2 separate regions of the Homo sapiens genome follow, and region 2 is reported to be linked to region 1. Evidence: microRNA targets listed by miRTarBase, many of them from high-throughput screens and not tested one by one. Region 1 holds a microRNA gene; the other region holds the end of a gene's coding sequence.

Evidence for each region. The annotated mature microRNA hsa-miR-6852-5p reads CCCUGGGGUUCUGAGGACAUG and lies in region 1 at 2,934-2,954, opposite strand. An mRNA with a match to its seed (bases 2 to 7 or 8) in the 3' UTR can be bound and repressed. Matches are read on the target gene's strand: a 7mer-m8 pairs with bases 2 to 8, a 7mer-A1 pairs with bases 2 to 7 and ends in A, and an 8mer does both.
Region 2: the mRNA of FITM2 is a reported target of hsa-miR-6852-5p. Seed matches in the 3' UTR shown: 7mer-A1 at 1,597-1,603 and 7mer-A1 at 364-370.

What each region holds. Positions count from the first base shown.
Region 1 is chr9:35,707,783-35,711,848 of GRCh38, forward strand. MIR6852 (microRNA 6852) reads right to left here and starts at 2,959; the gene lies at 2,894-2,959. It overlaps TLN1 (talin 1), which reads right to left. Exons shown (of 57, transcript NM_006289.4): 29 at 3,813-4,010; 30 at 3,473-3,612; 31 at 3,207-3,300; 32 at 3,015-3,104; 33 at 2,779-2,901; 34 at 559-702; 35 at 1-110. RefSeq lists an enhancer at 2,999-4,066.
Region 2 is chr20:44,303,351-44,307,416 of GRCh38, forward strand. It overlaps FITM2 (fat storage inducing transmembrane protein 2), which reads right to left. Exons shown (of 2, transcript NM_001080472.4): 2 at 1-3,890. The coding sequence ends at 3,275. Among named protein-coding and RNA genes, the nearest start is that of FITM2, 5.8 kb to the right of the region's middle.

The DNA.
Region 1 (4,066 bases):
TGTACAAACTGGCGCTTGGCAGTAGGATTGGTGGTACGGGCAGAAGCCAGGCGACAGCTGTTACACAGTGCAGAGGTGTGTTTAGCCACAATGGTGGCTGCAGAGAGCACCTGAGGAGACACATGGAAGAGCCACGATGAGGGCAGGAAGGAGGTGTACATACCCAAGGAGGAGCCATTTTAGGGTCAGGGGATGGAGAGCAATACCCTGAGGAGTCAAAACAGGAATAACAGAGTCACCTGAAAAGTCAAGATCTAGGAGACAGAGATACCCAAAGATGAACTGGGCATGGGAGAGGAAAGACATACTAATGGAGAAACCATAAGAGGGCATGTGGGAGAGTAAGCTCGAACATCTACAGAGAAGTTGTGAATTTAGCAGTAACTGATAAATGATGAGACCCATGGCAGAAAAAGACAGTTACCCAAAAAGAAGCTGTGTGTGCAAGGTCAGAGATGGGTCCCTGCCCTCTTTCCCACATGCCTCACCTCCCTCTACTCCACGGGGTCGGTCTGCCCTTTCCCAGACTCGCCTGTGGTCCCTGTTCCCTTGAGTTACCTGGGCCTGGGTACAGCCAGGCTCTCCCAAACTCTGGCAGGCCATCTGAATTGCCTGGTTTGCACGGGCAAACTGTGTGGGCTCCACTAGCCCTTGCTGTCCAGCTTGGCTATTGGGGTCAGAGACACCAACCAGATATGCAGCCTGGGAAGAGAAAAGGGGGTGGGGGTGAGGAATAAAGATTGCAGGTGGGAAATGAATAGTGATAGTAGGGACAAAAGAGAGCAGAGGTAAGTTTAGAGAATAGGGCTTATTTTCCAGAGTTCTCCATGAGTGGAGATACATTAGCAAACAATGGTTACACTATAAAGAAGAAAAAAAATACTCTCCTGTTTTCATTAAGTATATTCAAGCATTTCAGAAGATTAAAAAAGTTAATAAAAAGGAAAACTACATAGCAAGGGTTTTTATCCAATCTCTATTTAGATATGTTTGTGTATGTTGGGTCTTAGAGTGAAAAGTATGGCTTACTGTAAGTAGCAGTAAAACGTTTGAGAGCCATATATAAATACACACCTTTGTGCACACAAGCAAAGCCTCTTTTAAAGACAGTTCAAAACTGATGAAGGTTATTAGGCTAATTCACATTTATAGCACCTCCATGCGTCAGATATTTGGAAAGGAAGGGAGGGGTTAAAAAGCCATTTTTATGATGGAAAGAACATCCTAATGTTTGATTCATACTTCAATCAATACACAGTAGCTTTGCTTTTTCCTCTATGCATTTTCAGAAGGTGGGGGGAAAAAAACCAAACAAACAACAAAGAGGTTTAGTGAAACCCTGTCTCTACTAAAAATACAAAAATCAGACGGGTGTGGTGGCAGGCGCCTGTAGTCCCAGCTACTCGGGAGGCTGAGGTAGGAGAATCACTTGAACCCGGGAGGCGGAGGTTGCAGTGAGCCGAGATTATGCCTCTGCACTCCAGCCTGGCGACAGAGCGAGACTCCGTCTCAAAAAACAAACAAACAAAAAACCAAAAAAACAAAAAAACAAAATCAAACAAGCCATCTAGAGCAAGGCGCCTATTCTGACAGGGCACAGGGAGGTGGTGGAGATGGAGGGCTAGGATGGTAGGCTTTCAGGGAAAATAGTCTGAAGTGAACTCTTATGATGCCAGTTTGTTTTAAGGATTCATATACTAAAGCAAAATACTTTACAGCTAATAGGTAGTTTTATACTTGATAATGTGGGAAAAGGCAAAGTTAAGTGATAACTCAAGTAACTGGAAATTTTGTCACTAGTACTATTTTAAGAAAGTAGTGATTGGCCGGGCGCGGTGGCTCACGCCTGTAATCCCAGCACTTTGGGAGGTCGAGACGGGCGGATCACGAGGTCAGGAGATCGAGACCATCCTGGCTAACACGGTGAAACCCCGTCTCTACTAAAAATACAAAAATTAGCCGGGCATGGTGGCGCGCGCCTGTAGTCCCAGCTACACGGGAGGCTGAGGCAGGAGAATGGCGTGAACCCGGGAGGCGGAGCTTGCAGTGAGTCTAGATCGCGCCACTGCACTCCAGCCTGGGCGACAGAGCGAAACTCGGTCTCAAAAAAAAAAAAAAAAAAAAAAAAAAAAGAAAGTAGTGATTACAGGCCAGGCGCGGTGGCTCACGCCTGTAATTCCAGCACTTTGGGAGGCCGAGGCAGGTGGATCACGAGTCAGGATATCGAGACCATCCTGGCTAACATGGTGAAACCCTGTCTTTACTAAAAAAAAAAAAAAAAATACAAAAAATTAGCCGGGTGTGGTGGTGAGCGCCTGTAGTCCCAGCTACTTGGAAGGCTGAGGCAGGAGACTAGCGTGAACCCGGGAGGCGGAGCTTGCAGTGAGCCTAGATCACGCCATTGCACTTCAGCCTGGGCGACAGAGCGAAACGCTGTCTCAAAAAAAAAAAAAAAAAAAAAGAAAGTAGTAATAACATGAAAAAATAGTTTGTATAAGCTAATTAGTATATTTTGAGAAAGCCAGCTGGAAAAGGCCTCACGGTTGGGCAGTGTAATCCTAACCAAAGTACCAGGGTTCAGGAATTACAGAAATCAGAACTGCTGGTGTTCAGTAATTGCTGACAAGTGTCTCCACTTCAGGAGGAGGACAACCCAGATTCCATAGAGTTGGCTTTGCAAACATAAACTTCTTGATTTATCTACAGGTATGTCAGGCTGAGAGAAAATGGGGTAAAGAAAGTAGGGGCCATTCAAAGAACCCATCTCAGGAAAATAACCTGTGCAGCTGCCTCGGTGAAGCCACAAAGTGCCTTTGAGGCTGTGGAAATGGCATCTCCAAACTCTGGCAGGTTTCCGTTCTTGGCATTTTGGGAGATGCCAGTCATGGCCTCGCCCAGCACCTGAGGAACAGAGGACATCAGGGGAGTCAGAGCATGTCCTCAGAACCCCAGGGCAGCATCTGGTTAGCTCCATCCTACTGCCCTCTCTCCTCCGAGTTCCTGGCTGTGCTGACCTTTGAGTTCTCCATTACACTGTCCAGGCAACCAAAGTAGGACATGTCATTGATGGGCTGGACTGGGTTCTCCAGGAGTTCCCGGACCGTCTGTGTAGGGGGAGGGCAAAGTGAGATCCAAGACACCTCCCTCAGGCCCAAAACCAGAACACTTCCCTCAACCTCAATGCCATCAGCCTGCCATGTGTCTACCTCCAATTCCCGCAGGGCGTTATCACACTCCTTCTGGCCGGGTGCCTGCTGGGTGCACATAGTGATGAGCTGATTGATGCTGTCAGTTACTGCCCTGGGAGTGACAGAAAGTTGAGTGAAAAGGTGAATAGGTCATCATTCCTGGGTCCTATGTAAGTATTTATCTTTTGCCTATAACCATTCCTAAGCCAAGAAGCTCTCATGAACTGCCTGCTCCCCAGTCTCTCTCACACAGTCCAGGGCTGGGCTTCTCAGCAACTACTTACCTGGCAGCTGCAGCCAGCTGACTCTTGAGGTTAGGGGCAGCAGGGTCCGTGGACAGGGCCTTGGCAGCCAGAAGAAGTTTGCTTGAAGACATGGAGATGCCCTTCAAGTTGGACACAACTTGGGCTCGGTCCTCCTGGCTCTGTTGAAGGTGACAAGGTCAATGCATTGTCCTGTCCTTTCTTATCTGTCTCTAAAAGGGATCTTCTTTCCCAGACACTCAAGTAGTGCTAGAGACTGGGGAGGGAAGGGAGCCAGGAGCAAGTCAGGACTGGTCACTCAACTGCCTCCTATCTAACCCTTAGTGGGAACCATTCAACCAGACCCTCTGCCTCTTCATACCGGAGCCTGGCCTGCCATCTCCACACCAGCTTCCAGGAAGGTGCTGAAGTCCTGTCCAAATCGGCCTGAGGCTCGAGCCAGGTCCTGAGGGGTTCCCCGAGAGGCCTGCACCAGTTCTGTGGCTGCCTGATTCAGCCCAGCAGCAGCTTCATTCAACCGGCTCTGAGCTTCTTGAAATGTCCCAGTGCTAGGAGGAAGCTGCAAGGTGAGAGGGGAAGTCAGACAGAAGAGTGGGGAATGATGCAGGGAGAAGT
Region 2 (4,066 bases), not on the chromosome of region 1:
TGAGCCCAAATCCTTTCACTTATGTCAGGCTGTTTCACATAGGAATAGAAAGCATGCTCCCAAGGAAGAGGCAAGGGGGCTAAGCATGGACAAGTGGCGGAAGCCTCATCGATACAGAAGGCTCTGCAATTGACACTTTCCACATACAGTTAATTTAGTGCTGAGCCCGCATCAGACCCACGTGGGATAAATATCTGGAGATTTAAGTGTCACAAATGAACTTCTGGGGTCACCCTGTGCCTATTCCCTTTTGGTGCTGAACATGACACTTTGGAGAGCCTTTTTTTTTTTTGAGACAGAGTCTCACTCTGTCGCTCAGGCTGGAGTGCAGTGGCGTGATCCTAGCTCACTGCAACCTCTGCCTCCTGGGTTCAAGCGATTCTCCTGCCCCAGCCTCCCGAGTAGCTGGGATTACAGGCGTGTACCACCACACCTGGCTAATTTTTGTATTTTTAGTCGAGACGGGGTTTTATCATGTTGGCTAGGCTGGCCCAACCTCAAGTGATCCTCCCATCTCAGCCTCCCAAAGTGCTAGGATTACAGGTGTGAGCCACCATGCCTAGCCTAGGAGAGCTTTCAATCCCTTCAACAAGCCCCTGCCATCTACTCCATGGCCACTCCCACCACTGGTTTATGGGCATAGGCAACAGAGGGTCACATCTTACCAACGCCTCCAAAGCACCATGGTGCCACCTCCCATATCTCATCACCTGTGTTTCTGCTCCTTTTGGGTGCAACAAATCATGACTCATTGTGATGGATAAAATTAACCTCCAACTTGATGGGATATGAAATATTTAAAATATATCCTTATAGTAAAAGATTTTACACCGAAGATTCATCCTCAACCACTTAAGCTTCAGTGAAGCCAGTCAGGTGTAGTGCTTCTCAGTTAATGCTACTATTGGACTTGATTGGAGAGAGGGGCATCAAGGCGGCCTTAAGGGTGATTACCCCAACAGCAAGGGGCTCAGTTTGAAAGGCTTAAGGAGACAGTCTGGGAGAGAAGAGGGGATATCTTATCACAGGGCGTGGAACTGTGCCTTTGTGGATGGAGGTGACAGGATTTCTAACCCTTCCCAGCATTGTCACAGCAAAGGCCACAGAATGACAAAGCTGGAAACTGAAAAGTGCTGCAAAGGGGAGAGAAAAAGGAAACTGATTTCAAGTCCAGCTGAACAGGCCCAGGTATGGTTTGGTTTAGTTTGGTTGGTGATGCAAGTAACAGGAGGGAGGGACCACAGCCATGCCACCCTTCAATAAGGGTGATTTTGCAAACAGGTTGGCTTTTTGCCATCAGAGGGAGGCATTTTACTTCACTTCTGAATTATCATAATCTTGTCCAACAGGTACAGATGCCCTGGGCCACAGCAGAGTGATCAGTGCACTCAGCACATGACCCTGAAGCACACTGTTCAGTCTATACCACTGATATGTGGTCAGGGACATTTCGGTGCAAGAACGCATTCTGCAAAATTACCTTGATTCACCTTAAAATTCAACAGGCTGTTACTAAAATGCCTGCTTTCTGGTTTGATTATCTTATTTATTTATAGAAACCAGGGTCTCACTATGTTGCCCAGGCTGGTCTCAAACTCCTGGGATCCAGTAATCCTCCCACCTCAGCCTCCCAAAGTGCCAGGATTATAGGTGTGAGCCACTACACCTGGCCCAGGTTTCATTGCTAACAGAGAAAACAGCCCCATGAGGTGGAATTTAAGACTGTAAGACCAGAGTTTGGTTCATAACAAGTACATTAGTGTTCTAAACCAACCAACCAATCAACCAGCCAACCAACCAACCAACAAACCCTCAAAACAACCTACATGTGCCAGAGTGCAGCACTGGCCTTGTGAGTTATTTTCAGGAGTTTTATCAACAAAGAACAAATGTCACAGTTCTTATCAAAAACTGTAAAGGATTCGCTCAAAATAGAACAGAAAAAAAGTAATCTTATTGCTCCAAAAAAACCAGCATATAGTAATAGAAAACATGGACAGAAAATGATCATAGTCCATTACGTATGAATCATCCAATACTTGGTCGGAGAGGCACTGCATCTAAAAGGGCCTGTTTTGGTGGCTAATCGCAAGTCAGTTGCAATATTTAAACACTTCATGGATGAAACAAATATTACAACCAGAGAGTGTCCTTCAGGCATCAGGCTGTTTTTATAAAGAACCCTGCCTGAGCCGGGCGCGGTGGCTCATGCCTGTAATCCCAGCACTTTGGGAGGCCGAGGCAGGTGGATCACCTGCGGTCAGGAGTTTGAGACCAGCCTGACCAACATGGAGAAACCCCATCTCTACTAAAAATACAAAATTAGCCTGGTGTGGTGACGCATGCCTGTAATCCCAGCTACTCGGGAGGCTGAGGCAGGAGAATCGCTTGAACCTGGGAGGTGGAGGTTGCGGTGAGCCGAGATCGGGCCATTGCACCCCAGCCTGGGCAACAAGAGCAAAACTCCATCTCAAAAAAAAGAAAAAAACCCTGCCTGAAATAGATGCCTATGCAAAACTGACCAGTGGGAAATACTGTTTTGTTTTGTTTTTTCTTTTTTGAGGTGGAGTCTGCTCTGTCACCCAGGCTGGAGTGCAGTGGTGCGATCTCAGCTCACTGCAACCTCCACCTCCTAGGTCCAAGCAATTCTCCTGCCTCAGCCTCCTGAGTAGCTGGGATTACAGGCATGTGCCACCACACCCAGCTAATTTTTGTATTTTTAGAAGAGACGAGGTTCGCCATGTTGGACAGGCTGGTCTCGAACTCCCAATCTCAGGTGATCCGCCTGCCTCGGCCTCCCAAAGTGCAGGGATTAGAGGTGTGAACCACCATGCCTGGCTGGAAAATACTGTTAAGTAACAGCAGTAAGAGCCGTGAAAATCTAAAGACAACTGGAACCAGGGAGAAGGCAGCAAAGGAGTCCCAAGGCTCTGGCCACTCCTTTAGCCACACCATAAAGGCTTTCCTGATTCTGCCCTTTTGCTGAGCCTTAGGTCCCCACTCTAGGGACAAAAGGAGTGTTCCAGATAAAGGTCAAGTCTTACCAGGGACAAAAAGTGCCTAACTGGGAATGGTGGTGCTTGCAACACTGGTGATGTCGCCAAGAATAGTCTGAAGACTAAACTCACTCCCCAGACTTCAGCACCACCCACCAAAACTGCCTGGTACACTTTCCCTCTGAAGTAGGATCAATAATTTAGCCAAATAACTAAGCAAAATATATATTTGAAAAATAGATTAGCCATTGTCCTTCTGTCCCCCCTCTGTTACTCTTTTATTTCTTGTAACTATCTTGCTTCAAATTCAAACTACAGCTCTGGGGAGGAAGTCCTGGGGAAAAGGCTTTCGGATACCAAAACCCGTATGTCCCGTACCAGCTCAGCAAACCAAACAAGGTGCCAAACACCTTCTGGGACAAGTTGTGGAAATAAACAGCTGTGCACAGAAACATCAACACCCAGATGAAAGTCAGAATGCCCAGGGCCACAACCAGGGTGGTGATGGCGGTGTGGAGGCAGTGGCTTCGGTCCGTCTTCACCTCATGCAGCACAGACATCTCTTCTACAATCATGAGGGCGCAGAAGGTCAGCAGGAAGGAGTGACCTGAGATGTCAAAGCCATGCCAAAAGCCCCCTTCCTGGTGGCACTGCTGCTTGCTCTGGTGTTCCTTTCTGACCCCCTCCAGGGCTGGGGACTGGTAGCAGCTGCCCGTGTAGTGTTCGATGTTGGAGAAGATGGAGGTGCAGATGTACCAGATGGCCGTGCCCACAAGCAGGGTGCTCAGCCGCCGCAGGACCAAGCCAGCCTTGCCGGTCAGATGGTAGTTGGTGAGGGCAATGAAAGGCAGAAGGAGACAGAACGTCCAGGCCCAGGCCACTTTGACAAAATACCTGACAGAGGAGGAAAGTGGAAGTGAAGAGAGGGAACACGGTGGAGAGGACACCATGTCAGGACTCAGGTCTCTACACTGTCAGGGGAGGGAAAATGAGAAAACTGATCAAAGCTACAGCTCATAGCAACTATCATGTTTTAGGTACTTACCATATACTTCACTTACTAAGTACTT